7 separate regions of the Homo sapiens genome follow, and all the other regions are linked to region 2. The links come from fine-mapping of genetic effects on gene expression. A gene starts in region 2. Each other region holds a variant in brackets. All regions are shown on one strand. Distances are from middle to middle.

Region 1 (4,543 bases), 430 kb after region 2:
TTGACCCTTGAACAACAGGGAGTTTAGGGGTGCTGAGCCCTGCACACAAAAATCTGCATATAACTTTTGACTCCCCAAAAACTTAACTACTAATGAGCTACTGTTGATCAGAAGTCTTTATGATAACATAGTCAATTAACACATATTTTGTAAATGTATTATATACTGTATTCTTATAATAAAGTAAGCTAGAGAAGAGAAAACTGTTAAGAAAAGCATAAGGAAGAGATACATTTATAGTACCGTACTCTATTTATCAATACCATCTGTTTACAAGATGAATTTTCTGAAATGGCAACCACGGTGGCACACCTCAATCTGTGGTACATATCAAGCAATTCAACTTTTTCTTGTAAAGTCACGACTTTTCCCTGCTTCTTGGGAGCACTTCCAACATCACTAGTTGCACATTGTATGAGTCCTATGGTGTTAGTCAAGGTCTACAGTATTACACTAAATGTGATGAAAAGTATGTGAGAGCCATCACTTCTTCCTGTGATATGCAATTTACTGGAGAGATGAACTGCTCACATAGAGGTGATTAGCATCCGCAGCATTTTACCAGATACTGGCAACACTTGAGCTCACCACAATAGCAACAGGAGGTAGCTATGAAATTACTACAGTAGTACAGTATGTACTACAGATAATGTTCTGCAGTTATGATTTAATACTACATCTTTACATTTGTTTACATTTCTCTCATCTGCAAAGGGAGCCATGTACAATCTGTGTTTATGTGCATATGTTTTGACAAATTTTAACTTTTTATAATAGATCTGTGTATACTTTGTGGTAGTAAATGCTAAAATAAACTAGCATCCACATATATTTATGCATTCATAACATACCTTTTTCTTAATTATTTTGATATTTCCAGACTATGTGGTTCATTGTAGAATTTTTTTAAATTGTCACAAATCTCCAAAAAATTTGTGGAAAAAAATATTTGAAAAAGTGGATCCACACACTTCAAACTCATGTTGTTCAAAGGCCAACTAGATTTAATTTCAGTATATTCTGAATGGTACAGTCTAATCATGTAATTCCTTCTTTATTAATTTAAATAAATCTATGCAAACAGAACTTTCCCCTTATCAGCTATTCAGTTACTCTGAGATACTTTTGTATAAGAAGGTAGGATAAATGCCTCATTCTTTCTCTTTATTTACCTATTTTTAAACCATCAGTTTGTTTACTAGTATCACCCAAAGATGATTTATTTATTTTTTGTGTCATTATTAACTGATGGATTTAAAAATATTTGATGTGTTTCATTCCATTGTAGTAGCTATTTTATTGATGCTCAAATTGTCCCATCTTTGGCCAATTGAAACATCTTTAAACTGGTTCTGAGTCCTTTTGACATGACCCTCATAGTTGTTGATATCATCCTGGCTTTCTGATAGGACAAATTGTTTCAGGCTATCTTGTACATGTCCTGCCCTAGATCTGAAATCAGCTATCTCTTCAAAGAATCCAATTTATTTTCCTAGGTCATAGTATTTAGAGGCCACAGTCTGAACAGTAAGTGTGTGTGTTGCTACTGGATTGTTCATTGTTTCTAGGTCTTTTCAGCAGACAGGACTAGGAAACACTTTTTTTCTCCAACATGAAATTATATTACTAATTATATGATATTTCCAATTTAAGTTGAGGACTATAAAATTGCACTTTACCTCACTGATGTTACATCTGCATTTTCTTTTTCCCCTGCCTACAATCCTGGCTCTCAGTGGAACAACATAATCACTCATTTGCTTTATCCCACAATACACACCCAGTAGTCTCAGAAAAACAGTATCAACACGATCACCAACAGTATAACTATTGAAAAGAGTTTTCTGTAGTTCTTTTTGTTTTTAGTATGTATATTCTACTAGAGATGTACAAATTTCTGTTAACCTATGATGCATATTACTCTAAATATGATATCATTTCCATTTCTCTCTCTCTCTCTCTCTCTCTCTCTCTCTCTCTCTCTCTCTCCCTCTCTCCTTTTTTAGAGATGGGATCTCACCCAGGCTGGAGTGCAAAAGTACATTCATAGCTCACTGCAACCTCAAACTCCTGTGCTCAAGCAATCTTCCCACCTCAGCCTCCCGAGTAGCTAGGACTACAGGCTGGCGCCATTGTGCCCAGCTAATTTTTTTAAAATTTTTATTTTTAGAGATGAGGTCTCACTATGTTGCTTAGGCTGGTCTTGAATTCCTGGGCTCAAGCAGTCCTCCCACCTCGGCTGCCCAAAGTGCTGAGATTATAGGCAGGAGCCACTGCACCTGGCCATTTTTATTATTTTTGTTTTAAAACCTCCACTATTGATTTCTAAAATGTTTAAATGCTTATTTTCTAATTTTTCTTTATAATGTGGGGAAGAGAATATGAGTAGGAATCATTATATGATTTATGAATTACCTTGGAGTGTCATAGTTAGATCCTCAGGATACTATTGCCTGTTCTTTCTTCTTAGACCTGACTCAATTTCACAATTTCATTCACTCATTCATTTAAGAAACCCAAGTAAATGCTATGAAGCAATTGGAAAAGAGGCTTAAGGAGAGAATTTAACATATATTTGTTGTTTACTATGTGTCAAAATTATGATAGATGCTTTACTTATCTCATAATTTC[A/C]TAAGAACATTTTGAAGTATAAATTATTATTATGTGACCAATTTTCAAATGAGGCAGTTGGGAATCAGGGAGTTTCCTTTGCCCAAAGTCATAAAGATATTAAGTAGAGAAGCTAGAATTAACATATACAGTCTGTTTTACTCCCGTGTCACATATAAGATGCAGTCCCTGTCCTTAAGGAGTTAATGGAGGGTTGAGACCCAAGAAGAACAGAGTACAATAGGAGTTCAGGCCAAAAGAAAGGTATTAAACTGCCGGGGCCTCACAAAGAGGTGGCATTTCACCTGATTATCAGGAAATAATAAAATGTGCTGGATGTAGAGGGAATGCATCCCATGTCAAAAATTGGAGATGAGCAACATTCTGTAGGTAAGAAAATGTGAGGGGTATTTAAAATGATAACCAGTCGGGTTGGACCAAAGTTTAGTTAATATAGGGAAATAGAAAACTAAAAGCGTTGCCTGGAATCTCAGTTGGGATCTGAAGGTCATTCTGAGGATTCAGGACAGCTAGAAACTTTTGAAGGTTTGAGCAGGAGTGAAATATGCTAGGGCACAATCCTAGCCACTGGGCAGGCTCCGGCTAACCCAGATCCTTCTCCTTGGAAGGACTCCAGACAAAACCCACCCTCATAGATCCACAAGTCTTGCTGATTGACTGCATGTCTTCTAGCAATTTCCTAGAAAAGTTGCATTTTCTTCGATGTTTTGCTACTGGAAGTTTTGCCAAATTAAGTCTTCCAGTTGAAGAGAGATGGAGTAGCCCCACATAGCATTGCATTGCGATTGGCAGTGGTTTTCTGAAGTCTCAGATGTGAGCAAATAAAGTCTGACTCTAATTAGACATACTTAATCTGCTCGTTGAAACTTGGAGTCAAATAAGTCTTAGAGTGACATTTCAGTCTTAGAGTAACATTTCACTGATTTCTTATAAGAGCTTTGCTAAAAAATATGCTTATCAATTTAATCAATTATAGGATTCTAGAAATCACAGGAAAAACATCACAATTAAAGAGATTTTGGTAAAACTGAGTTAAAATTGGGTAGGACTTTTTACTATAAAAATAAGTTATATCTAATGTTATACAATAAACTGCCTAGTTTGGATAATTTCATTAGCTTAAACTCTTCCCTTTGCTCAGTATTAAAGTTCAGAAGTGGCCACCTAACCTAACATTCTTACATATCCCCCTCATGGGGACTTTTAACACAGTGAATTAAGTGTCCCCTTTATTCCATTTTTTTATAAGAATGTATGAGATTGCATAATTCATGATAACTAAACTTACTTTTAAAATATGACATTTGCTGTCTTAATTCTTTCCAGTTCATAATCTATAAATCAAATATGGTCGAGCTCTGTGAAATCTATTAGTTATGCATCTTTTGAGACCTGAGTGATCCGTTGCCTATCATAGGACGAGATATGAAGTGTGTCCTCAGTATTCTTAGTACCCACCCTTCTTTCCTTCCTTCCTTCCTTCTTTCCTTCCTTCCTTCCTTCTATACATGTATTTTTTGTAATAGCTTGAATAGTTTACTGTCATGTAAGAGAATAGTATCTTATGTAGAAACATAGCGTGGACTTCACCAATACTCATTTTTGGAAGTTTAAACCTAAGAGAAAAATGTTTGCTGGATACATCTTTATAAAATCTACATTTTTACAGAAATAGTTCATTGATTATTATAAATATCATGTTTGAAAAACTTTTAAAAATGAAGTTACACACAGATATTGTTTAATACCTTTAGCACTATACTGCGAAGTGCACTGCAGAAATAAAGCCATTGTTTATTTAGATGGGTCAGTGATTCCAGACTCACTACTCCTCACACAAGATTTTATCTGAGATACCCTGATCATTGTAGTCATTTGGCTTGTGAGCTTCAGTTGCCCCCCCATACGCTTA
Region 2 (4,543 bases):
AGGTTCCTTTGGCTCTGTGCTGCTCCGAGGTGGGCTCCCCACCCTGCCCAACTTTTCTTCATTCTCCATGGGCCGGTGGTTTGCCTAGTCAGTCCCAATGAGAGAACCTGGATATTTCAGTTGAAGGTACTGAATTCACTTGCCCCTTCTCATTCCTCCCTGAGTGCTGCGGGCAGGGGCTTCTAATTGGCCATTATGGATTGATCTCCCTGCAGTGAAGTGTTCTAAGTAGGAAGAACACATGGTATTGTGGAAAATCAACATAGCATGGTGGCTCAGAAATAGATTCTGGAGCCAGGCAGGTTGCTTGGTTTGGAATTCTGGTCCTGCAACTTACTGCAACCTCTCTATGCCTTAGTTTCCTCACAGTTTAAAGAGGGATAAAATAATATCTATAGGTCTATTTGCGAGGTTTTAAAATTCTTGGAATAGTACCTGGCTCATTATACATGCTATAGAAATGCTTATTCAATTAAATAAATAAAAGCATCTTTGGTAAGATAACTCTGAACATTGTATGGTTTAGTAGAGGATGCTGACAAGAATAAATAATTAAAACATATCATGAAGTAAGCATAAAAGATAGTGGTAATGCAAAGATGCGAATGAGCTCTGCTTCCTGTGATTAGTGTGAGCAGACAAATTCACTGTACTCAGAAGCTTAAAGCCTAGCGTGGGAAGCTGACATGAATGAAAACCAACGGGAAAAAATGTTAGAGTAGAGGTGTAAGCAAGAGTGATTAATTTCAACTTGAAAGCAAATGGGGGAGGTTTCACAGAGAGGGGCCCAGCATGTTGGTTGATTGCTTGGGCTCCAGAATCAGGCCAGCTCAGTTTAATGCTGACTTTGTACCTCACTGGTTTTGTGACTTGACCTCTCTAATCCTCCATCTCCTTATCTGTACAGTGGGGGGAAATAATAATGATAATAATAGGTAGCTCATAGGACAAATAAGAATTCACAGTTAATGCATCAAAAATCTTAGCACAAGGCACTCAATAAATGTGAAGCTTTTATTGTTATTACGAGTTGAAACTTGAGTGGGAAAGAACTTCGTTCACATTAAACATGAGAAAAGGCCCAGAAGTTGAAAAGCATTTGACATAATTAAAGAACAGCAAGTCAGTGCCACTTAAACGGTAATCCAACCACCGCCAGTCAGTGAACAGCTTTTTACTGCTCCATGAACAGGTAAGTATAGAAATTGTGAGTAAGCATTTAGAAATAAAAACAACAACAACAACCAATAATTGAAAAACTAATTTTATACTTTTTGGCATACTCATTGTACACTTGTAATAAAAACTGGGCTTGTAGTTTTTGTCTCTTTTCTTATTTGCTAGCAGGTTTTGATTTGTATTTTACAGAAATAATGGTCCATGTCAGATTGGAAATAATAAAAACTTGTCTTTTACCCTTGATAGTTTGAGAAAAAAGTAATTCAGTGGGGTTAGATATGGCATCCGAGAGATGATTCGGGAAAGGTGGGCCAGGGCCATGTTTATGTGGACCCTCCAATGCCTCAGAGTTCACACTTGTTTCAGTGGGCAACAGGACTAGTAAGGTTTAGAGGGACTGTTAACCGAAGGTGAGTGGACTTTGCACATTTTATGGTATTTTTTTTTTCCCAGTAGGCATGTGCTTATTCTTTCTTTTCTTTTCTAATTAAAAGTTCTGTTTGGTTTTTTTAGTTAAGAGGAGAGACTGGAACTGCTCAGTGTTTCACAAAGATAACTGTTTGTATTTGATAAGAGTTTCGTTAAACAAAGGAATTTGCACTTATCAAAACATAAAGCATTGAAAACACTGAGCACATACTCTGTGACCAGAATGCGTGTGACTTGTTGAGATAAGCCACACCGGGTAATCAGATGAGTCTCCTTTCTTCTTGGGCACCCTCATATAATTCAGGCACAAACGAAAGAGAAAACGCTTTTTCTGATCTCTCAGTTCGGGTCATCTCTGCCTTCCATCATCACCGCCTAACAATCCTACACCTGGCAGGGTGGGAAAACGGTTTAATAATCTCTTCCCTTTGGGAGGCGTTTGACAGCTCAGAAAGCATGGCCTTTACTCAGGCTCAGAGACACACAAAAACCTTTCACGTTTTCCTTTCAGCTTCGCAGCCCCGTCCTTCTCCACCTGCACGGGCACCCACTGAAGCACAGGACCCTTCTGCCAAGCCATGAGCCTTCTCAGGCCCCTGCCGCCCGCCTCGCCTGAGGCTGCGCTTCTGAAAAGCACGCGGCCCTGGCCTGCGCACCACCCAGTCTGAAGGCGACGCCCCTGCACGAAGGAGTCAGGCCTAGGGGCTCGGGACCCAGGGCGACACTCAATTTTCTAACAGGAGCCACAGCCCAGAAGCTGAGAAGCCTTCCGGCCGATCTGTGGCCCTGAGGTCGCCCTTGGAGGGCGAGTGAGAACCCCCCAGGCGTTCCGGAGGTGGCCCCCAGCCCGAACCCGGCGCCCGCCCCGGCTTCCCGAGTCAGGTCTTTGCCCCGCCTCTCGGCCCCGCGGCCTGGCCGGCAAGCAGGGCTGCAGTCACGGGGCGGCGCGGAGGGCCCCAGCCCAGTCAGGGGTGTGGCCGCCGCCACCGTAAGGCTAGGCCGCGAGCTTAGTCCTGGGAGCCGCCTCCGTCGCCGCCGTCAGAGCCGCCCTATCAGGTGTGTTTGCAGCCGAACTGGCAGTGCCCGCGGGCGGCTGGGCCGAGGCCTTGGCTCCTACCCGCGGGGGTCGGGCGGGCTGAGGCTGGAGCAGGCCAGGGGCGGGGGCAGAGGGGGACGGACTTCCAGCATCGCTCATTCGGGGGCGTGACGGGAGGACCTGGCTGGGGAGCGGCGGGTTGGGAGCCTGTGGCTGCCCCTTCGGTGACAGTGGAGTCACCGAGCCTAGAAATGGGGAAGCTGTGACGTGGGGGTGGTGGAGGGTGCTGCGGGACAGCAGCGAGCACGGCCCTCAGCCGTCCTTCCCAACACGGTTTCACTTCCCCTCAGCTCCAGGGCTCAGCCCCAAGCCGCCCCCTTCATCCCCCATCTGCAAACAATCCTGGTCCCCCTGAGCCTCCAATATGCCTTATGCAGTTCTTTTGGGGTTCCTTTCGCATTTTACCGTGTACTTTCGCTTTTGATGCGTCTAGTTTCTGCTACTGGACTCTCCTAGAATCGAAGTTCCATGAGGGCAAAGTCCCATCTGACTTAGGACTCAGAGCTACTCAATAAGTAATTGAATGAGTACCTATGCCGTAGAACTGAGTGAATTAACAAATGAGTAAGTGAATAAATGAGTGCATACGAGATACAGCTGAATCAATCAGTGCATGAGTGAAAATAAAGATGTATGAAGTGGAAGCAGTGGAGACGCAGGCTTACAACTCCTGTTTTTTGATAGCTTTCCAAAAAGTTGTGTGAATGTCGCACTTTTGCAAATGGAGGCATTCTGATTGGGACCACTTAAAAAGAGTTCTATGCTGTTCAAATGGTCTCTGGAAACGCCCCCTGGTATTTCCATTTTTGTTGGACTTGGCTATATGTGTTTGCTTAAAACAAAATATGCCTAGGTTTTTTCTTGCTTGTGTTTTGTTCACTTCTACTTTGGACGTTTAAAGAATCATTGTCACTATAATATTATTTCATGTATTTCTTAAAGATAAGGGTGACTCTGAAGGCAGAACCATATGACTCTGACTTGTTTGTAAAACCAGGCTTTTCTTTTGAATTCAGAGTTGTTAAGAATCTTGTCTGTTTTCCTGAGACAGGTGCTGGCTGATTTGCAGGTGACTGAAGAAGGCTACATAAGGCCCAGAAAGACGCTTATCTGTTTGTAAACAAATAGGCTTAGCACATAGCTTTAATACAGTTGGTCACTGCAGCCGTTCTTACTTGCCAGGTCCAGGTTCCAGAAGAGCTGGATGACCTTGGACTTGCCACTTGATCTCTTTAGGTTTTAATTTCTTAATCTCCAAAATGAAGATGTTTAGCTAGGAACCCTGCCTGAGTTAAACCTCTGGGATTCTTTTGTATCAGGGTTAGAAGGTGAAATTACAGATGATTTCATGGAGTTCTGCTTACTTCACCTCCCATAGCATTTTGTCTCTGCTCTCTTCTTTGCTGTTTACAGCTCATTTCCTTTCTTCTCCACATCTGCAACAAGAAAGCCTGGGAGCTCAAGATAAGTGTAATAAACCCTAGGCTGGTGGGGAGAAAGGAGGGTAAGATTTTCTTCTACATTGTCACAGGCTCCTGGTCCTGGGTCTGACTTTTTTCCAGTGCAACCCAGTCTGACAATGCCATATATTCCCAGTATATCTGGGGAACTGCATCACTATTTCTTCGCATGCATTTGAGATTAGTTATCATAGATCACATTTTGGAGCTGGAAGGACCTTGGAGATTTTTTAAAGGCACTTCAAAAGTCATTATACATACATATTTAAATATTTTTGCATGCTACATTTAACAAACACAAAGTTCCAAATGTGTTAAGTAAAATGAAATTAATGTTACCTACTTCAGTGAATTCAAGTTTATAAGGAGAAGTGGAATA
Region 3 (4,543 bases), 180 kb after region 2:
CAGTGGTAATAAATGCATTTATATTCTATTTGTTTCTTTGACTCTTCTCCCCTCTCCCCTTCCTGGCCTCTGATAACTACCAATCTCTATCTTTATGAGATCTACTTTTTTAGCTCCCACATGTGAGTGAGACTATATGATATTTGTCTTTCTGTGCTTGGACTTTTTCACTTAACATAATGGTCTTCAATTCCATCTATGTTGCTGCAAATGACAGGATTTCATTCATTTTTATGGCTGAATGATATTTCATTGTGTATATATATGGCGTTTTCTTTCTTCATTCATCTGTTGATGGGTACTTAGCTTGATTCCGTATTTTCACTATTGTTAGCAGTGCTGAAATAAACACGGGAGTGCAGATATCTCTTTGATGTATTGATTTCCTTTCTTTTTGATATATACCAAGTAGTAGAATTACTGGATCATATGGTGGTTCTACTTTTAGTTTTTTGAGGAACCTTCATACTGTACATTAGGCTGTACTAATTTGCATTCCCACCAACAGTGTATGAAGGTTCCCCTTTCTCCACATCCTCACCAGCATCTGTTATTGTGTGTGGTGAGATGCTGTCTCATTGTGGTTTTCATTTGCATTTCTCTGATGATTAGGGATATTGAGCATTTTTTTCATGTACTTCTTGGCCATTTGTATGTCTTTTGAGAAATGTCTGTTCAAACCTTTTGCCCAATATTTAATCTGAATTTTTTTTTTTTTTTTTTTTTTTTTGCTATTGAGTTGTTTGAACTCCTTATATGTTCTGGTTATTAATCCCTTGTCAGATGGATAGTTTGCAAATATTTTCTCTCATTCTGTGTGTTGTCTTTTCACTTTGTCGATTGTTTGCTGTGCAGAAGCTTTTTAGGTTGATATAATCCCAATTATATATTTTTGCTTGGGTTGCCTGTGCTTTTCAGGTCTTAAACAAAAAATATTTGCCCAGACCAATGTTCTGGGACATTTCTCCAAAGTTTTATTCTAGTGGTTTCATTGTTTTAGGACTTCTATTGAAATATTTTATCCATTTTGATTTGATTTTTGTGTATAGTGGGAAATAGAGGTCCAATTTCATTCTTTTGCATATAGCTATCCAGTTTTTGATAGGGGCTCTTTTAAAACTGATGTCTTATCCTTCTTAGTGCCTCAAACTAGATTCTGTTCAGATATGTTATAATAAATTAGTATGAGTTTATTTTGATGCAAAAAAGTTGAAATCTATTTTTTTATAATACACATTTTTCATGAACTTCTTGAAGACCCCTCCTATTTGCCAGACACTGTTCTTTCATTGACTAATAAATAAATTCTCTCTCCTTTCTTTTTTCATTTTTCAGCTCTTGGGTTTTACAGTTTTAAAAATTAATTTTTAATTAGACAAGTAAAAATTATATGATTTGTACTGTACAAGTGTGATGTTTTGATATGTATGTACACTGTGTAATGGCCAAATCAGGCATATCCATTACCTCACATACTTAACATTTTTTTGTGGTGATAACACTTAGAATCTATCCTCTTAGCAATTTTCAAGTATACAATCTATTGTTATTAACTATAGTCAGCATGATGTACAACATATCTCTTGAACTTTTTCTAACTGAAAATTTGTGTCCTTTGACCAACTTCTTCCCAATCTCTACATTCCCTCATCTCTGGTAATCATTATTTTACTCTCTGTTTCTATGAATTTGAGTTTTCTAGATTCCACGTATAAGTAAGCTCAGATGGCATTTTTCTTTGTGTGCCTGGCCTATTTTACTTAACATAATGGCCTTCAAGTTCATCCAAGTTGTTGCAAATGACAATATTTCTTTTTTTGGTAAGGCCGAATAGTAATTCCATTGTGCCTATATACCACATTTCCTTTATCCATTCATTCACTGATGGACACTTAGGTTGATTCCATATCTTGGGTATTGTCAATAATGTTGTAATGAACATAGGAGTGCAGGTATCTCTTTGACATACTGATTTCATATTCT[T/C]TGGATATGTGTACCCAGTAGTGGGATTGCTGGGTCATATGGTAGCCCTATTTTTAATTTTTTAGCTCTATTTTTAATTTTTTGAGGAGCCTCTACACTGTTTTTCATAATGGCATTCTCAATTTACATTCTCTTCAACAGTGTACAAGGATTCCCTTTTCTACTTATCCCTGCCAACACAAATTCTAACTCTTCACCATGGCCCAGGAGGTCCTGCATGATATGGTTCCTGCCTTTTTGTCAGATTTTGTCTCATGTTTCTCTTTGCCCTTTCTCACTGCACTCCAGCCACAAAAATCCTCTTTCAGCTTCTTGTGAAGGTTTTCCTGCCTAGAGGCTTTTGTAGGTACAGTGACCTCTGCAATGAGTATTCTTGTCTCCATTCTTCTTGTCCATAGTTCGTTAGCATAAAATCCTTCAGTTTTTCAGCTTAAATATCTCCTCAGAGAAGTCTTCCCTGATCACCTAATACAAAGAAGTTTTCTGTCCCCCTCATTCTTCAGTTAGCTAAAAATAATAGAAAACCCAAAACAATAGTTGCTTACACACCATAGAAGTTTCTTTCTCTGTCATATGAAATTATAGATAACTATGCACCAGAGTGTTAGCAACCCAGATTCCACTGTCCAGATGTTCCTTTCCAAGCCTACCTCGTCATCCAGGATGGCTTCTTCCATCTGCATTTGAGTGACCAGGATAAAGACATGCCACCCCCTTTAAGTAACATGGCCACATCTAGCTACAGGGAAGCTAGAAAATGGGGTCTTTTTAAAACTCTAGACAGTCATCTTCCCAGCAAAATTAAAACTGTTATTACTAAGGGAGAGGGAGAAAATGGAAATGGAGGGATGAAGAGGAGTTACATTCCACATTTTATACTCATGGTAGAAATGGACTTTTGTACATTATTGTATCACATGGCATTTTTAATTATATAATTTTCTTGTAGGCAAATAACTTTCTTATGGGAAATTTGTGCTACTCTTAAGCAACTGGCTTGTTTTCCTATTATGGACATTGTGAATCTTCTGCCTGATTATGTTTTGCTTTTTGATTTGTTTGCCAGGAAGTTTGTAGCTAAATTTATGGTCCTCTCCAGCAACTACACAAATCCTATGATGGATATTTTTTCTGATAATATTATCTGTAGCGTTATTTTATTTTACTATACTTTCTTCCTTTCTTTCTTTACCTTCTTCCTTTCTTTTTATTTTCTTCAATGTAATTTTGCAAGTCTCTTCAAATTCCTTTGGTAATAAGTCAGGAAATAAGTAAAACACAAGTATAAATAAATAAAGTATTTTATATTTAATGAAGGTGATAAAAGTGCCTACATTATAGGGCTGTCGAGAGAATCCACTGAGTTAATGTAAGTAAAACATTTAGAGCAGTGCCTGGCATATTGTAAGACCTATAGAAATGCTAGTTCGTTATTATTATTATTTTAATTAAATCTTTCCTGAAGTGACTGTCAGATAAATCTGCTTGATAAGACAGTTTTACTTTAACTTTTGTTCTAGGTTAAACAAAGAGGGAAAGATTAAAATATACATTTAAGGACCACTCAGCAACAATCATTCTATGTCTTCATATTCTAATCTACATGGCAGCTAGTAAATGCATTGTGCTGTGTAAGATAATGTGCTAAAACTCTTAGTGGAGATGGCCTCTAAATTTTTTATGTTTAGTATTTAGGCATCTTGTAGATAAAATGTATGGATGAATAATCAGATGAGGATTCAATGACCAGAAGTACTGTTGCTCTCTCTCCATCTCTTTCTGTTAGAAATAGATCTCCATCAGATAGGTCTGTGTTTGAATTTTAGATGTACTACCAACCACACTATGTGACCTAGGTCAAGTCTCAGCTTTCATGTCAATATATTTACCGATGGGTGGCAGTAATACCTATCATATAGGGACATAAGGATTACATTAAATAATACATGTTAAGATCTTTGCATGGTTCCTGGCCAGAGTACACATACAATAGCTATTTCTGATATCATTATTTTCACTCAAGTCTTTTAAATTGAAGAATTATCACCTTTTAGCACTTGAATTTATATTGAATCTATACACACATCATTTTTTTATTTAAATATTTGAAATCCTTACCCTACAATCCAATGGAAATTCTGCAAATGTTTAAAGTTTTGGACTCCATGACAAAATTGTATAGATAGAATAGTGGTTTTAAATATGGCTCGGGGATTACAAATGGTCCACATGGATCCTTGGGAATGAATCAAGCTACGAGCTCCTATAGCAATAATATTTCTATTACCATAGCGTATGTGCCTAAGTTTCTGGTGTGGATTAATAAATTATTACTGTTGTTAAATGGATGCCTGGTTTTCTTAATTGGTAGCTCATCAAAAGCTTATTAAAAACTTCCTATTCATTTTGTTGATTTCAGTGGTTGGGGATAAATGGCCCAGGAGGCTCTTTGCCCTGCTAAAGTGGATCATGAACAATGTGGGATATTTAATTCAATTCAATTCAGCAAACATATTGAATTCAAAATATGCAAAAAGCATTGTGCTACAAATTGTGACAA
Region 4 (4,543 bases), 500 kb after region 2:
TGATATAATGACTTATTTTCCTTTGGGTAGATACCCAGTAATGGGGTTGTTGGATAGCATGGTAGATATACTTTTGGTTCTTTGGGAAATCTCTATACTGTTTTCCGTAGAGGTTGTACTAATTTACATTCCCACCAATAGTGTATAAGCAGTCCCTTCTTACCACATCCAGTCAACATCTATTGTTTTTTGACTTTATAATAATGGGCATTCTGGGGCCAGGCATGGTGGCTCGTGCCTGTAATCCCAGAACTTTTGGAATGCAGGAGGATTGCTTCAGTTCAGGAGTTCAAGACTAGCCTGGACAATATTGTGAGACCTTTACTGTACAAAAAATAAACATAAAAATAAATTAGCCAGGCATGGTGGCATGCATCTGTGGTCCCAGCTACTTGGGAAGCTGAGGTGGGAGGATCTCTTGAGCCCAGGAGGTCAAGGTTGCAGTGACCTGTGATCATGCCACTGCACTCCAGCCTGGGTGACAGCAAGACCCTGTCTCAAAAATAATAATAATGGCCATTCTGACTGCAGTAAGGTGGTATCTCATTGTGGTTTCGATTTGCATTTTCTTGATAATTAGTGATGTTGAGCATGTTTTTATAAGTTTGTTGGTCATTTGGAGATACATAAAACATTGAACAAGCTTTCTCTTTGAGAAAGTTTAAGGAATGTGGTAAACTTAAATTCCATTCAGAGATCAGGAGATTGTAGACAAATTCCAGATTCTGCCACATTAAGGATACTATAGAACTCCAACAAAAATGAGACCCCAAAATATTATACCTCAATACAGTGGTGAACAAAAATAACTCTCAGGTCTGCAAGGAAAGTTACCATGATTGAGTAAAAGCTAAGTAGAGGGTCTGAAGAAATTCCCACTTATAAAGTTAGATAAAATATTAACTCACAACAAAAAGGGGAAAAAAAGAATCACAGCATTCTGAGCAAGAGCAAACAAAAAAAGATCAAGAATTAACCCACAGTGTCCTCTGATATTGGAATTTTTTGGTTAAAATTATTTAAGCTATGTCCATTATTTCAAGGAAGTCAAAGAAGAGTTTGAAAGTAGAATAGAGAGCATGGGACCATAAAAAAAAATGACCAAGCATATTGTAGAAAGAACCAAATAGAACTTTAGGGAATATAAATTATACTCAGTGAAATTTTAAAATTCGGGGACAAATTTAACCAATTTAATGAGAGTTAGTAAACTGCAAGACAATAGTGATGAAATTTATGAGAATTTAGCACAGAAAGACAAAGAATGGAAAATATAAATGAAAGGTTAAGAAATATGAAGGATAGAGTTATATTGTCTAATGTGTTTAATCAGGGTTTCAGAAAAAAGAAAATGGGACAAAGAATTATCTGAAGACATAATAAATCAAAATTTTCCAGAATTTAGATACACAAAATCAAGAAACCCAGTGAATCCCAGACAGAATAAATAAAAAGACATATTTTAGAGAAACTACAGACCAGAAGAGACAAAAGAAGCTCTTTGAAGTAAGAGAGAAGAGATGGACTATCTTGAAAAAAGCAACAATTGGACTTTTAGCTAACTTCTTAACAGCAACAATGCAAGCCAGAAGATCTTCCACATGCTGAGAGACAACAATTATCAACCTAACAACTCTGTGCTCAGGGAAAATATCTTTTGAAAACAAGGACAAAGTAAGGATATTTTTCAGATTAAAAAGTGAAAGAGTTGGCCAGCCATGGTGGCTCATGCCTGTAATTCCAGCACTTTGGAGGGTGAGGCGGGTGGATCACCTGAGGTCAGGAGTTCAAGACCAGCCAAGCCAACATGGCAAAACCCCATCTCTACTAAAAAAAAATACAAAAATTAGCTGGGTATAGTGGCACGTGCCTGTAATCCCAGCTACTAGGGGGCTGAGGCAGGAGAATCGCTTGAACCTGGGAGGCAGAGGTTGCAGCGAGCCAAGATCATGTCACTGCACTCCAGTCTGGGCAACAGAGTGAGACTCTGTCTCAGAAAAAAAAAAAAAAAAAAGTGAAAGAGTTTACTACCAGCAGGTCTTCACTACAGGAAATTAGAAAAAGTGTCCTTTAGGCAAAATTAAATGATTATAGAGTGGACACTAATATACAAGAAGTGAGGAGATTGGCTCCAGGCCAAAATCAAAATCTGTATGTGACTTTCCAGGCCTGACTTTAGGCATTACAAAGGCTTTGCCTGGCAGGCGCTACTGGGAGAAAGCTGCCCCCTTGATGTGGTTTGATTGTGTCCCCACCCAAATGTCATCCTCAATTCCCATGTGTTGTGGGAGGGACCTGGTGGGAGGTAATTTAATCATGGGGGCAGGTCTTTCCTGTGCTGTTCTCATGATAGTGAATAAGTCTCATGAGATCTGATGGTTTTATAAAGGGGAGCTTCCCTGCACAAGCTCTCATTTGTCTGCCACCATGTGAGACGTGCCTTTCACCTTCTGCTGTGATTATGAGGCCTCCCCAGCCATGTGGAACTGTGAGTCTATTAAACCTCCTTTTCCTTATACATTACCCAGTTTCAGGTATGTCTTTATCAGCAGC[C/A]TGAAAACAGACTAATACACCTCCCCACAGCTGACTTAGTGCTCTGCCAGTGGGTTACAGTTTTCCAGAAGGAGCTGCAGTCAAGGACTCAGGCCGCCTAGGGCAGCCACCCATTCCTCACCCAAACACCTCCATTCAAGGCCTCCTTATCTTATGACCAAGATACTTTCATCCACTCTGACCCAGTACTTTTCTAGTCCTAGACTTCCCCTACTCCCTTCTGTCAGTCCCCTGGACCATAAAATGTCAGGAGTCATTTGTTCAGGGCTCTTTGGTAGTGAGATGATTTTCCCTGTCTGAGCTGATTCATCTGACCCTTGCCTACTGCCATTCCCTGGGGAAAAAATGGAATGTTAGGAAGCTGGTGCTTATTTTTGCCTCTTGTTTACACTATTTCTGTAAGTGATTAAGGCTTGATTGTTAACTTTCAGTTTGGCTTATTGTTCTGACTGACCACCTAATCCTGGCCACTGGACAGAAATTAAGAGCAAAGAAAGTGATAACCGTTTTAAACAAACATAGAATAAATAAAAACCACAATAATAAGGTGGTATTTGAAAAGAAAACAAGATGGAAAGAATATATTTCACTGGAATAGCATGTGAATAAGACGTGAAGTTACTGGAATTAGTGTTCTAAGGTCCTTTTGAAACTGCCTTTGCAAAATTATAACAGTAAGAAAAATCTGACCTAGTTGACTCCATCTTACTTCTAACCCCAAGCTGTCCTTGGTCATTCCTGGACATAGGCCAAGATAACTTTGAGAGGAATTTAGTTTACAGTTTAACTTAGAAGCAAGAATGATAATAGTCCCTCCCTGAAACTAACCCTCTCCCTGTTCAATGGCTGAAACTGCCTTTGTAAGACTAATGAAAGGCCACAAGATTAGGATTATGGGAGAGGCCCAAGTTCTGCTAAAATGTAGGCATAGTTTCTATAATTTCTTACTGCTCAGGAGTCATGTGGCCAGAGGTCCCAAGATTTATAACTTCCCCAATTGCTTCTATAGGTATCACTGTTGTAGAACCTAAGACTGGGGAGTTTTTTTTTTTTTAGATGTTTTTCAGACTGATCCCATCTGGACTCATGACTCAGCTGGTCCTGTGGCTCTGCCCACAGGTGGCCTCACTGCACAAGGACAGTCTTCCAGTGATGTGATGGCATTCCCAACCAATCAGCTGCACCCATTCCCTAGTCCCCTGCCCACAAAACTGTCCATAAAAACCCTAACCTCTGACCCTTCAGGGAGACTGATTTGAGTGATAACTCCAGTTCTTCTGCATAGCTGGCCTCATGTCAGTTAAACTCTTTCTTTACTGCAATGCCATGGTCTCAGGCAATTGATTTTGTCTGTGCAGTGGGCAGAAAGAATAAATTTAGGAGCTCATATGGGATCCACCCTTGTGGGTGCCTGCTTGCAGTTCATTGGTTCCCCACAGGTCCGACTGACCTGGAGGTGAGCTCTGACGGCCACTTATTTCTCCAGAACTGAGGGTCTCTGCTGATGTCCCTCTGCAGCTGTCCTGCCAGTGAGGCACTGTTGACCCATCGTGCCTGGGCCTAACTGTCATGTAGAAATAGTTTCTGGAAGTCATCTTTAAACTGGTCTGGTGAGTATTCTAAGTGCGACCAACATCCCCTTCCTTCTCCTGACCTAGTTGGCCCCTTCTGTGGGTTCCAGATAGCCTTTTTCTGTGAGTTCATTTGTATTGCTCTAGAACAGGATAAAGATATTGTCTAACTTTAGGCTTTGCTAAGTTAAATATGAAAGTTAAATTTTCTGGCCAGGCGCCTTGGCTCATGCCTGTAATCCCAGTACTTTAGGAGGCTGAGGTGGGCGGATCGCTTGAGGTCAGGAGTTTTTAAGACCAGCCTGGCCAACATGGCCAAACCCTGTCTCTACTAAAAATACACACACAAAAATTAGTCAGGCATGGTGGTGTGCACCTGTAGTCCCAGCTACTTGGGAGGCTGAAGCACGCAATCATTT
Region 5 (4,543 bases), 290 kb before region 2:
GATCATCAGATGTGCTCTTGGTGAGTGTTCGGGACTTCCAAGAAGGGAAGGATGGCCAGGGAGTGACAAAATGGGAAAAGCTTCCCAGACCAGGTGGGCCCTGGAGTTGTGAATGACAGCCTGAGCATTGATGCAGCCATATCCAGGAGAAGACACTAGGCACCCAGGGCTGGCATGCATCGGACACTCCTTCAAATTGATGTGTTAAAAATCTTTGCTTGAATTTCACCTGCTAGAGAGACTGAGGCTGAGTGCAGAGGGCATGCAGGACTGAGGGGCCAGGGCGGACAGTCTCTATGGCCTCTGCAGTTCCCAAACACATCCACCCCACCCGCAAAACCAGAGCTGTACAGTCAGTTACCTGCTGGCTCAGTGCCCATCAGTTATTACTTCTCATGGCCCTCGGGAACTTTACAGTCCACCGAAAGTGCTGTTTTTGTTTTCTAGTAAATACATATTTTTTTGTCTTAGTCCATATCTAGTGAAATGAGGTCTTAGCTCCCCTTATGGTCTGTTATGGGATAACTGTCTGACTGAGATGACAGGAAATTTGTGCAAATATTTGGCTCAATGTGTAGAGAGAAGGAACAATGCTGAAGAAGAGAAAACATGGTCTAGGGACCCAGCAGTGGCTGTTTCTCCTACAAGCCAGCCTAGTCCTTGGTGTCTTACAAGCACATTCTTAATTATCTATAACAGCACCACAGAGCACATATGGTGAAGCCTATTTTATAGAGGAAGAAGGAGGTACATAGAGGCTAACTCATTTACCCAGAGGCAGCTAATAAGGAGTGAAGTTTGGATAGGAACTCATGTTTCAGGGCGGGCGCACTGGCTCACGCCTGTAACCACAGAGCTTTGGGAGGTGGAGGCAGGAGGATCACTTGAAGCCCAAGGAGTCTGAGACCAGCCTGGGTAATATAGCAAGACCTCATCGCTACAGAAAAAAAAATTAGCCGGGCATGGTGGCTCATGCCTAATAGTCCCAGCTACCTGGGGAGGCTGCGGTGGGAAGATGGCTTGAGCCCAGGAGTTCAAGGCTACAGTGAGCTGTGATCATACCACTCCACTCCAGCCTGGGTGACAGGGCGAGACCCTGTCTCTAAAAAAAGGAAAAGAAAAAAAGAAACCCATATTTCAGTCCGTGACAGACCGCATATACAATGGTGGTCCCATAAGATTATAATGGAGCTGCCCTATACAGATGTACCATTAAAACATTTTTATCCCATATTTTTACTGCACCTTTTCTATGTGTAGGTGTGCTTAGATACACAAACACTTACCATTGTGTTGTAGTTGTCTATAGCATTCAGTATGATAACATGCTGTACAGGCTTTTAGCGTAGGAGCCATAGGCTATTCCACATGGCCTGGGTGTGTAGTAGGCTATACCACCCAAGTTTGTATACATTCACTCTATGATGTTTCGCACAATGGCAAAATCGCCTAAAGACACATTTCTCAGAACATATCCCATCATTCAGCAGCTCATGACTGTGCAGGGCTAGGTCAATACAGGATAGCTCTTGCTGATCCTAGCCTGAGTTTGTCCACTAGGCTATGCTGCCTCTCACTCAGATGAAAGGGAAGAGCTCTTGGTGGAGACTTCTGGAGGACTGTAAAGGAACATTGGGCCTGACTGCAAAGAACTGAATGCTGACCTCATGCTTCCCAGTTTTCATGGGCTGTGATGAACAGGATGGAGTGGCGGTGGCAGACTAGAGTGAGGAAGAGCAATGAGGGGCCACTGAGAAACCTGCAGATCCAAGGGAGAGGCAGGGAAGCTGGAAGCAGGGGAAATGGGAGGCCATGAGCAAAGAGAGAAGAGGCTTTGGTGATTCTGCCTTATGTAAGGGTCGGGGTGGGGTTGGAGAAAACACTGGTGACAGTGAAACTAAGATGTCAAGGAAAGGCATGGGTTTACAGGGAAAAGGGCTGAGTCTGTTGTATTTGAAGTTCTGGAGAAACTTCAGCATCTAGCCTTCTGGTCTGTGCTGGAGAGTGGTTACTGCTGGACCAGAGGACTCCCCTCACGTTGAGTTACTGAAAGCCATGGTGGGAACCGCGGATGGATGAGACCACCGGGCAGAAAAGCCGAGCAGCTCCTGAACAGTGAACCTTTGGGATCACCACACTGTGTTTCTCACAATTCAGTATCGCTGCTTCTCAGTGGAGGCTCTGCTGCCTCCATGGGAGAGCACTGGAAAATAGAGGGGATGCTTTTGATTGTCCCAGTGGTTGAAGGATGGTATAGGCCTTCGATAGATATACAGTGACACAGGGAAACAAGATGTTCTGCAATGCACAGGGCAGCTCTGCAAAGTGAAAAATTTCTCT[G/T]GGGTCCTCTTGATTTGTAAATATCTCATTGGGCTTTCATTTAGGTGAAAAATCTATTTTGAAGTCTCTTAGCCCAGAACCTAATTACAGTTTCCATATATACCTATATATTTTACTTCATTTAAATTTACATGCATTTTTGTAAGAATGTAACCATATAAATAGAGAGAAAATTGTACTTTGTTTTGTTGGAATTTTACTGAGCTGTTTCATTTCAGGACATCATGTTTCTGCTGGCAACATCACTCCTAAAATTTGAGTTACTACTCTGCATTGATACCTATCCCATTAGTGGTGATTTTACATATTCATTGAAGCATCTGATTATTTTGTATTAAGTGGTCATGTCTAACAGTAAATTAAAATATATTTTTTCTCTATAGATTCCTTTCATTTATTCTATATACTTACAGTTAGGTTATTATATTGTTCTTTTTTAAAAATTATGTGTGCATATGAGTTATTTTATCTATACAGTTTATTTCAGGAGAGTGAAGAGAGTGTTACAAATTCATTGTGGTAAGGAGGGGTTGGAACTGATGAGGTTGAGAACCGCTAGTTCTAAACTAGCACTATCCAGTAGAAATATAATAGGAACCACAAATACATTTTACATTTTCTAATAGTCACCCTAAAAAAAAAAGGATGGAATATTACTCAGCCTTAAAAAGAAAGTAAATCCTATCACATGATATGACATGGCTGAAGCTTGCGGACATTATGGTAAGTGAAAGAAGTCAGTCACAAAAAGACAAATACTGTATGATTCCACTTATATGAGGTATCTAAAATATCTAAATTCCTAGAAACAAGAAGTGGAATGTTGGTTGCCAGAGCTGAAGAGAGAGGCATATGGGGAGTTTTTTAATGGGTATAGAGTTTCAGAGTTGCAGGATGAAGAAGTTCTGGAGATCTGTTTCACCACAATGTGAACATATTTAACACTACTGAACTGTACACTTAAAAGTGGTTAAGAGGGTAAATTTTATGTTAGTGTTTTTTACTATAATAAGAAAAGAAGAGCGGGCAATACTAATTTTCATAACATGTATTTATTTAACTCAATATATTCAAAATACTATCATTTCAATATGTAATCAATATAAAAATTATCAATGAGATATTTTATATTCTCTTTCTTGCACAAAGTCTGAATTCTATGTCCATTTTACACCTACAGCACATATCAACCAAGACTGGCTGCATTTCCAGTGCTCAAATGCCATACATGGCTAGTAGTTAACGGCAAATGCTAACTACACTTGTTGAGCAGACCTTCAGCACCAGGCACTGCTGTGGGTCCTTTACATAGAATTACTCTTCCCATCCTTGGCCCTATGAGATAGGCACCAGGAAATTGAAGCACAGAGACCTTGAATAGCACACTTAATGTCAAGAGAAATTGTGGCCAAGTGGAGAGCTGAGCCTAGGCATTCTGGCTCCAGAGCCCGTGCCTTAATCACTGTGCATAGGCACCCTTGTGGGGTTTTTCTCCTGGACTCCTGTTCTGGCCAAGTGGGAGTCCACCCAGCCTCTTTTCCCAGTGGGATACTAGGATTGTGCTTCCCTGGGCTTGCTCTTCCATGGGCTCACATATTCCATGGAAGCACACTCCTAGCATCTCCCTGGGAAACTGAACCCTGGCTGCACAGGCTTTAGGGAGTCAAAATCTGGCTGGCCCCCAGGGAGCCAGTTAGGCTTGTCTCTCCCTGCTTTCCTGCTAAGCATAGCAGACGCTGGCCAGCCCGTCTGCACGGAAGAAAGAAGCCTGGGTTTGCTTCACAACCGCCTTCAATGTTCTCTATTCTCTGCATTCCCATTAGGAGAGGTAGTGGGCCTGGTGAATCAAGACAAAACACACAGATGTGGCAGAAAGACGGTCCCAACATGCACATCTAATAACGACTTGCCACCAGGACCTTGCTGGTGAATCACTTGCATTTCCAATAACTTTTTCTCCTGAGTTTCCCTTAATAAAGACAGATTTCTTCATTTCCTGGGGCTCCCTCAAGATTATACTGACAACTTCTCCATTAATTATCAAATTATGCCCCATCACAAAATGATTACATCTGCTTCCTACCTAAACACTTCCCCTCATTTGTGAAAAGTCTCATTTAAACTAATATGCTTTTAACTTGCTCAATTTCAACACCTCCATAGAGGCTACTAATGAGCTGATTCCTTGCCCAGCTGGTCCCTT
Region 6 (4,543 bases), 410 kb after region 2:
GCTAAGGAGAAAAATAAAACAGGGAGCAGAGATAGAGTACATGAGGAGGGGGCTGTTTTAATTTTTGATAGAGGGGAACAAGGCAGACTTTATGGAGGTGGTAATATTTGGTTAAGACCTGAAAGGATGAAGAGGAGAGCCACGTGGATACCTGGAGGAGAGCATTCTAGCGAAGATGGAGAGTTGTTCCAAAGGTGCTGCTGGAGGCCATGCTTGACATTCAGGGGATAGGGAGGAAGCCAATGTGCTTGAAATGGAGCAGTGAAAGGAAAGCAGTAGGACAAGAAGTCAATATAAAGAAGCCCAGGCAGAGTCAAGCCCCATGGGCCATTTTCTCTGAGTGAGGTTGGAACTATGGGAGGCTTTTGAGCATAGGAGAAACATGATCTGAATCAACTTTCTAAAATAATCATTCTGGCTGCTTGGTTGAGAACAGACTAAAGGGGAACCAGAATGGAAGAAAGATAATAGCCTAGGCAAGACAAGAGTGTAGTTTGGAACAAGATGATAGCTGTGGAAGGCATAGCAAGTTGTCAGGCTGCAGATAATATTTTAAGGAAGGAGCGAACAGAATCTGATGGTGGATTGCATATGGAGTATGAGAGAAATAGAGGAGTCAAGCATAAACTGACAGTTTGGGGCCCAAACAACTGAAATGAGGGGAGTTAGGCAGGGGGAAAAGGGGGAGATAAGGAGTATGGGTTTGAACCTGTTAAGTTTGAGATATCAGACTTTCATGTGGAGAGGTCAAGTAGGCAGTTTGGTAAAAAGTATAGAGTTCAATGAATTGACATTTCTCAAAAGAAGATATACAAATGGCCAACAAACATATGAAAAAATGTTCAACATCACTAATCATCAGGGAAATGCAAATAAAAACCACAATGAGATACCACCTTACCCCTGGGAGAATGGCCATTATTAAAAAATCAGAAAACAATAGATGTTGTCGTGGATGTGGTGAAAAGGGAACTCATACACTGCTGGTGGGAACGTAAATTAGTATAGCCTCTATGGAAAACAGTATGGAGATTCCTCAAAGAACTAAAAGTATATCTACCATTCTATCCAGCAATCCCACTACTAGGTATCTGCCCAAAGGAAAAGAAGTCATTATATCAAAAAGACACCTGCACATGTACATTTATCACAGCATGGTTCACAATTGCAAAGATATGGAATAAACCTAACTGTCCATCAATAGATAAGTGGATAAAGAAAATGTGTTACATACATACCACGGAATACCACTCAGCCATAAAAGAGTGAAATAATATCTTCTGCAGCAACTTGGATGGAACTGGAGGCCATTATTCTAAGTGAAGTAATTCAGGAATGGAAAACCAAATACCACATGTCCTCACTTATAAGTTGGAGCTAAGCCATGGGTATGCAAAGACAAACAGGGTGGTATAATGGACACTGGAGACTTAGAAAGGGGGAGAATGGCAGGTGAATGAAGGATGAAAAACTACCTATTGGGTATAATGTATACTATTCGGGTTACGGGTGCACTAAAATCCCAGGCTTCACTGCTATACAGTGCATCCATGTGACCAAAAAACCACTGTACCCCTAAAGTTATTGAAATAACAAAATGTTTTAAGTATAGAGTTCAGGGGGGAAGTCTACAGATAGCCATAGGCATGGAGTTTTCTTCATATAAATGCTCCATCTGAATGGAAAATAATAGTTACCCTCTCACAACACCCCTGTCCCCCTGTCCAATGGAAGCTCAGCTTCTATGTTTTCAATGCTGTGATTGTTGGTTTTGCTCTCCAGGGAATATAGTGCCCTTAGAGGCTCTGTCTCTTCATCTTGAAGATCCCCTGGTCCTAGGGTCTGGATTCTCCACAAGCCTCCTTTATCACATCATCATGATCCTCACTGGAATCAGTCTCTCTGAACTGTTTTCTTCCTCCTCCTGATGTCTCACTCCCCTCTCTCCTTTCTCCAGGGCTATTGTTGCCACCAGTTCCTAAAGCCATTGGTTGCACCACCTTTCCTTCAATAAGTCAGCTGATGTAATTGGATAGAGATGGTTTTGTGGCTAACTTTTTCAGCCTTTTGAGGTTCAAGTCCATATTCTGTAGACAACTTGAGGCTTCTTTAGTCATAAAGCCAAATAAATAATAACTCAACTCTCACCTTCAGATTCTCCCTGACCAAGATCATTTCTCCCATTTTCTAAATAGGCTGAAGGAAGGCAAGGGCTGAAACGGAGACAGGATGCTACTGCAGTACTCCACGTGAAGGCTGGTGGTCGCTTGGACTGAGTCAGAACAGGGAAACTGATGGGAAGTTGTCGGAGAGTAAGTCTATGTTGAAAATAGAGCCAACAAGATTTGTTGATAGATTGCATTTTGGGTGTACAAGCAAGAGAGGAGTTCCAGAAGAAACCAACTCTACCAGCACCTTGATTTTAGCCCTGTAAGGCTTATTTCAGACTTACAACCTCCAGAACTGTTAGAGAATAAATTTTTAGGCCGGGCACAGTGGCTCATGCCTATAATCCTAGCACTTTAGGAGGCCAAAGTGGGTGGATCACCTGAGCCCAAAAGTTCAAGACCAGCCTGGGCAACCTGG[C/T]GAGACTTTTCCTCTATAAAAACACAAAAAAATTAGCTGGGCGTGGTGGTGCACCTGTAGTCCCAGCTACTCAGGAGACTGAGGTGGGAGGATTGCTTGAGCCTGGGAAGCCAAAGCTGCAGTGAGCCAAGATCATGCCACTGCACTCCAGGCTTGGTGACAGAGTGAGACCCTATCTCAAAACACACACACACACACACACACACACACACAAATTGTGTTGTTCAAGTCAGTGACTTTGTGGTAATTTGTGACAGCAGCAATAGGAAACTAATACACAATTAGACATCTAAGTGGAGGTACTGAGTAGCTGTGGGATATGAGTGTAGAATTCAGGAGATGCATGAAAATATGAATTTGGAACTCATCACCATACAGATTTATTTAAAACCATGAGCCTAAATAAGGGTTCCAACACAGTAAGTGTGATAGAGAAAAGAAGAGGCCTTTAGTCTGTTTCTGAGCACCCCAATTTCTATTGGTCAGGAGGATGAGAAAACCAGCCAAGAAAAATGAGAAGGATCATCCAGTAAAGCATAAAAAGAGCCAAGAGTCTGAGGTTCCAGAAGCCAAGGCAAGAATGCATTTCCAGGAGTAAACAAATGTCAAGTGCAGCTCCATCACAGGTTTGAAATTTGGTGCTCACTAATGGTTTCCACTTTAAATTTTTTGCTAATGCCTACAAAAATTCTAGGAGGGACAACCAATGTTTGAGAGTGAGATACTCTACAGAACATGCTTATATTTATCCTTTTAGAGATTGCCTAAGCTCTGATCCTCTCTTGGAAAGCTACATTCTGGACATTAGTTGGATGCTTAGAATAAAGTCATCTGTTCATTTGACAAGTATTTTCAAGTGCCCGTTAGCTAGGTTCTGAGAATATGCTGATGAACTAACAAGATCCCTGCTCTCATGGGAACACTTTCAGTCTAGGGTATTTGCTGAGGCCAAACATCACCTCTTTTATCAAGCTTTTGCCAACATTTTTCAGTAGTTGCTTTCCCTTCTTTGTACATATTCATAGAACTCATCACATTTAATGTATTAGCCAGTTATTGCCTCTGCTGGTAAACTCTCCCCTCCTTTAGGAAAGCAACCCTATCTTAGTCATCTTCATATATAGATACCCTCATATGTAGGTTGGAAATATGATTTATTATTAAAACCAGGAAATGTCTGCAAGAGAAAGGAGGCTCTGTTAATTAACACCAAGACAGGGGATGTAAACTGGGACTTCCTAGGGCAAACAAAAATGTATAGTCACCCTATCACTCAAGTTTACGTCAAAATAACTGTTGAATAAATACATTTTGCTTCCTGAAAAAACACATTTACTGAAATGTGACTTAATATTTTGCTTTTGGCTTTAATTGAGGATCAATATGTAAGAAATAGTGTTAGGAAAAGTGTTTCTGCATCTTTTGTAAAACTGTTATTGGAGACTGTGTCCATTATTTTGTCCAGCGTTCCTCATATAAAGAGCCATGTAATTACTCCCCTTAGAACTGAGCGCTAGAAAAAAATATTGCTTTTTTCAAGGAGATGGTGGTGCACTTTCTCTTCCTAGATAATGAGAGCTCAGTAATACATCAATCACGCTCTCACATTGGCAGCCACAAGCTAGAGCTAAATTATATCCTCAAGTTGCTTTTAAGGCTGTGTCAAAATGTTCCAAATTGTGACTTTTCCTTTGCCTTAAACATTTATTGTTCACCTACTATGTGCTTAGTTCTGTTATTTAATCTAGAGATATGGCAGAGATCCACACACGTGATTCCTGTGTTCATGGCATTTTCTTGGTTCTAGCACATTTACCTACTCTTTTAGTACAGTATTTGGACATTTTCTTGTAGAGAGCCTTAAATTTTTGCAGGAGCAAGGCAGGCATTTAAAAAAAATTGAATGAAGTGCAATAGGCCAACAAATTAGGGAGGGGTATGGACGGTAGTCACAGAA
Region 7 (4,543 bases), 46 kb before region 2:
AGACTTGGCAGGCTTCAGAAGGCCGAGTTAGTTCGCAGTGGGGAGAGCCAAAAAGCAACCCAGTTAACACAGCAGAATCTCTTGGGACCTAGGAATTGGTGGCATTCAGTGGAGGGTGAGAGTGATGTTAAACTCAGGATGATTGGCTGGAAGTCTGTTTAAGAAATAGATCCCCTGGTTCCTTTCCTCTGTCATGTAGCAAAGGGGCTCATGTTCCCTGCCCTCAGAGGGAAACCTGGAGATTTATTATCTGGAGAGGGTAAAACAGAACCCGGGGGTATTTCAGGAACAGATGGGGCTGGGGGTACCTTATGTAAGACAGAGAAAATAAGTTCTTAGATTAAGAATAATTTAATATGGTGTGATCCCAAGTTGTCTTGTCTTCTCCCAGTCAGTTCCCAGAACACTGGCAGTCTGTCCATTTACCCTCTGGGTAGGGGACTGGGAGGCTCCCCTCTGGGAAGCTGGACCAATTCAAAGAGAGTGGCATGGGAGCTCTCCAGTGAAACGTACAGCTCTGTATTACAAAGAATAAAACTTCAATGAGAAATGAAAAATTTCAGTCGAGGGGATGTTGCCTACATTTGACACACCTCTCCTGTGTGCTCAAAGCTTCTAGTCCTCTTTTCGGTGTTTCCCTCTTCAATATAAACAGGCAACCAAGGCTCCCCAGATATTTAGGAAAAACTTGTAACATGAGAGAAAGAGAAACCCCCAAATTGGGAGAGGACAGCCACTTACAGGAAGAAAAAAATTCACAGAAAAACATAGTAAATTCAGAGAGAAAAGCAGATGCTCGAACAATGGCACAAAAACAGGATACTATAAAACAGGAATGTTCTGAGACATAAGAGTTCTTAAGAGTGTGGGACTGTCGTGTCAAAAATGAAAAGCTCATTTGGAAGGTGAGAAGACACAGAGGATATTCATTCATTGAGGAAGTATTTCTTAATCACTTAGTACATGGGAGAACAGGCACCATTCTAGGTTCTAGGGACACTTCAGTAAATAAAATCTAACAATGTTTTCTCTGGCGATAGGCTAATTGTATTTATTCCTTCTGTGTTTCCAAATTCATACATGCAAATGTATTTTAAAAAGTATTATTTTTATAAGTTGTCTAAGTCCATTCAGGTTGCTATAGCAAAATACTTTAGACTGGGTAATTTATAAATTTATTGGTCTCAGTTCTGGAGGCTGGGAAGTCAAAGATCAAGGCACAGCAGATTTGGTGTCTGGTGAGGGCTTTCTGACTACTTTTTAGATGGTGCCTTCCTGCTGCATCCTCACATGGCAAAGGGGACAAACAGTGTCCCTCAAGCCTCTTTCCGAAGGGCACTAATTCCATTCCATGAGGGCCCTGCCCCCATGACCTGCTCATCTCCTGAAGTCCCTCTTCTTAATACTATTGCATTGGAGATTAGGTTTTAACACATGGATTTTGGGGAGACACATTCATACCATAAGTAAAAGAAAATGTTATTTTTAAAAAAGAAAATAAGGCTGGGTGTGGTGGGTTACGCCTGTAATCCCAGCAGTTTGGGAGGCTGAGGTAGGTGGATCACTCGAGGTCAGGAGTTCGAGAACAGCCTGACATGGCGAAACCCCATCTCTAATAAAAATACAAAAATCAGCCAGGCGTGGTGGCGCATGCCTGTAATCCCAGCTACTTGGGAGGCTGAGTCAGGAGAATCGCTTGAACTCGGGAGGCGGAGGTTGCAGTGAGCTGTGATTGCACTATTGCACTCCAGTCTGGGTGACGAGCAAAATTCCATCTCAAAATAAATAAATAAATAACAAAAAAAAATAAGAGAATGAGCATGGGAACATAGAGACAGAACCGGTGCCCTGGTGGAGAGATCAAGGAAGGCTTCAGAGAGGGGGTGATATTGATGCTGTACTTGATAGTGAGAGCAGGAGTTTCCCAGAGGGAAACAGGCCTTGGAGTAGTCTATTTCAGACAGGGAGAACAGTAGGACCTGAAGGAGGAGATATTCAGTGGGGCTTCGAGATTTCTGGTTTGAGCAAAAGAGTTAATGTTTTTAATAAAGATATTAAAAGCAGCAGAGCCATCTGAGACAGATTGCCCATCTGTCTCTATCTTTTTTTTTTTTTTTTTTTGAGACAGAGCCTCACTCTGTTGCCCAGGCTGGAGTGCAGTGGTGGTATCCCAGCTCACTGCAACCTCCTCCTCCCAGGTTCAAGTGATTCTCCTGCTTGAGCCTCCCAAGTAGCTGGGACTACAGGCGCCCACCACCACACCTGGCTAATTCTTTTTATTTTTAGTAGGGATGGGGTTTCACCATGTTAGCCAAGATGGTCTTGATCTCCTGACCTCGTGACCCACCGGCCTCGGCCTCCCAAAGTGCTAGGATTGCAGGCGCGAGCTACTGTGCTTGGCCCTGTCTTTAACTTTAAAAGTGCCAGCTTAAGGGGGATTTTCTACGTTACAAATCTCTTCCCTCATACAGATTCATCCCACTTCTAGGTTGATGACTCATATTGGTAACTCTTGTGAAACAAGAGGGTCTTTAAAAGCCCTAGACTGAAATTTTTCATTTCTCATTGAAGTTTTATTCTTTGTAAGAAAATGATTCATTGTAGGAACAAATTAAGCATATTATATGTAAAATGTTGATAGATAATTAGGTCACCTGATAAAACAGCATTATATTTCTGGACCCATCATTATTAATGACCTAT[A/AT]TTTACGTAACAGTTTATATAGAATGCTTTAAATATGTATCATGTCTGTTAGATATGTATCTGTGATATATATGTACCTTCGTGGGTTAGTTATTATTAGCCCCATTTTACAAATGAAGAAACCAAGACTCAAGTATTACTTGCCTAAGAGTACAGAGCTAATAAATGCCAGAACCAGTACTAGGTTTGTTTGCTTTCTTAATACCAAACCCTGTATTTATTCCAACATGCCCTGCCATTTCTTCTGTATAATAATGAATATATATGTTTTGAAATTAAAGGAGACAGTTGATAAATTAAGAAATGAACCGGCCAGGAGCCGGGCACAGTGCCTCATACCTATAATCTCAACACTTTGGGAGACCCAGGCAGGAGGATCCCTTGAGCTCAGGAGCTCGAGACCAACCTGGCAACATAGTTGAGACCCCGTCTCAACAACAAAAAATAATAATAATTTTTTTTTTAATATTAGCTGGGCACAGTGGCACATATATTTAGTTCCAGCTACTCAGGAGGCTGAGGTGAGAGGATTGCTTGAGCCCGCAAGTTTGAAGCTACAGTGAGCCATGATCGCACCCCTGCACTCTGGCCTGGGTGACAGAGCAAGAAAAGAAAAAGAAAGAAGTGAACCATGGCCATTGCACATGTTTCCAGCATGTGTTGCTTTCCCACCTGCTTATTACATTGATGCGATTCTGTGGAAAATACCCATTTTCTTTTGTTTGAGGAATTTAGAGGTATTTATCAATGTGTTGTCCGAGGAAGCCTGGTTAGTTTGAGTTACAGAGTTGGAGTTTGTTTGAGTTGTTACAAATTTGACAAATGATCAACTTAAAAGGAATGTTGTATTTGAATGTCAGAAATTCTCAAATGCTATTCTAGTGAAAAGGCAACAACAACAAACAAAAATCATGCTCAGGTAGAAAGTCACTTGTTGAACAAATACCAGATCAGAGCCTGTTATGTCTTAGACACTATGTTAGGCACTCAGGGGCCTATTAGGAAGAAGGCAGGTACAGTGTTTCATGGAAAGGTCACAGTGGCTTGGATTGGAGTGGTGGCCCTGGAACTGTAGAACGGTGTTAAGAGTGGAGGGATAATAAGAAGATAAGATTGATAGGACTGGATAATGGATTCAAAAACAAGGTAAGGAAGAGGAAGTCAGAGTTCTGGTGTGTAGGAACAGAGGGCTTCAGTCACTGCAAGGTCACAGGAGGAGAAGACAAAGGGACCATGAGTTCTGGTTTGGACATGTTCAGAGGTGTGTTGTACCTTTGAGTCATTCAAGTGAAAATGCCAGGAAGGCCACTGGATATGTGACTTTGAGAGGGGTGGTAAAAGCCGATGATGTAAATTTAGGTATCATCTGTGCTTAACTCATCATTTATTGACATTGTGGACATGGATGAGGGAGAAAGTGTAGAGGAAGAAGAGGCCTAGGGACAGACCTTCAGATACTCTTTGATATTTGATGTTGAGGTAGAGGAGGATAAACCAGCAAAGGAAACTTAGAATAGCCAGAGAGGTGAGGGGGAAGCCAGGAACTCTTAGGAACCCAAAGAAATAGGGTTTGTCCGGAAGCAGATGGCACTTGACAGTGTGCAGTGGTGCTAGGAAGTTCTTCTACTAGAGGAAGGCGATTCTGAAGAGTGCCATTGGGTGCTGTGGATACTGGTGACCTTAACAAAACAGTATTAATAGTGATGACAGGGAAAATGCTCCTGGAGGGAGTAGAATGCAGAGTGGAGAAGATGATGAGGACAAGACCTAGTGAGTATCCACCCCCACTGGAAAAATCTGCCTGTAAAACCAGGAGAGGGCCAGGCACGGTGGCTCACGC

Alleles and levels. Alleles are on the strand shown, and positions count from the first base shown. SD is a standard deviation of normalised expression in the study named. Not every link is listed here.
For the expression in visceral fat of the gene that starts at base 2,504 in region 2, C is the low allele of the variant in region 6 and T is the other (small effect, 0.36 SD a copy in GTEx).

What was found. PIP is the estimated chance that this variant, and not a neighbour inherited with it, causes the effect. A credible set is the group of variants that fine-mapping cannot tell apart.
Region 1: its variant is the best candidate, but not a certain one, in a credible set for the expression of CPQ in whole blood (TOPMed, PIP 0.80).
Region 3: its variant is the best candidate, but not a certain one, in a credible set for the expression of CPQ in whole blood (TOPMed, PIP 0.53).
Region 4: its variant is the best candidate, but not a certain one, in a credible set for the expression of CPQ in whole blood (INTERVAL, PIP 0.70).
Region 5: its variant is the best candidate, but not a certain one, in a credible set for the expression of CPQ in whole blood (TOPMed, PIP 0.70).
Region 6: its variant is the best candidate, but not a certain one, in a credible set for the expression of CPQ in visceral fat (GTEx, PIP 0.89).
Region 7: its variant is the best candidate, but not a certain one, in a credible set for the expression of CPQ in skeletal muscle (GTEx, PIP 0.71).

The regions. Positions count from the first base shown.
Region 1 is chr8:97,076,819-97,081,361 of GRCh38, forward strand. All of the region lies in intron 7 of CPQ (carboxypeptidase Q), which reads left to right. All of the region lies in intron 2 of LOC101927066 (a long non-coding RNA gene), which reads right to left. Among named protein-coding and RNA genes, the nearest start is that of TSPYL5, 200 kb to the right of the region's middle. The variant A/C (reference allele first, on the strand shown) is at 2,632.
Region 2 is chr8:96,642,739-96,647,281 of GRCh38, forward strand. CPQ (carboxypeptidase Q) reads left to right here and starts at 2,504. Exons shown (of 8, transcript NM_016134.4): 1 at 2,504-2,664. RefSeq lists a silencer at 2,379-2,928.
Region 3 is chr8:96,820,422-96,824,964 of GRCh38, forward strand. All of the region lies in intron 2 of CPQ (carboxypeptidase Q), which reads left to right. Among named protein-coding and RNA genes, the nearest start is that of CPQ, 180 kb to the left of the region's middle. The variant T/C (reference allele first, on the strand shown) is at 1,984.
Region 4 is chr8:97,145,515-97,150,057 of GRCh38, forward strand. All of the region lies in intron 2 of LOC101927066 (a long non-coding RNA gene), which reads right to left. Among named protein-coding and RNA genes, the nearest start is that of TSPYL5, 130 kb to the right of the region's middle. The variant C/A (reference allele first, on the strand shown) is at 2,554.
Region 5 is chr8:96,354,846-96,359,388 of GRCh38, forward strand. No RefSeq gene overlaps it. Among named protein-coding and RNA genes, the nearest start is that of PTDSS1, 95 kb to the left of the region's middle. The variant G/T (reference allele first, on the strand shown) is at 2,341.
Region 6 is chr8:97,053,334-97,057,876 of GRCh38, forward strand. All of the region lies in intron 6 of CPQ (carboxypeptidase Q), which reads left to right. All of the region lies in intron 2 of LOC101927066 (a long non-coding RNA gene), which reads right to left. Among named protein-coding and RNA genes, the nearest start is that of TSPYL5, 220 kb to the right of the region's middle. The variant C/T (reference allele first, on the strand shown) is at 2,587.
Region 7 is chr8:96,596,839-96,601,381 of GRCh38, forward strand. All of the region lies in intron 2 of SDC2 (syndecan 2), which reads left to right. Among named protein-coding and RNA genes, the nearest start is that of CPQ, 46 kb to the right of the region's middle. The variant A/AT (reference allele first, on the strand shown) is at 2,704.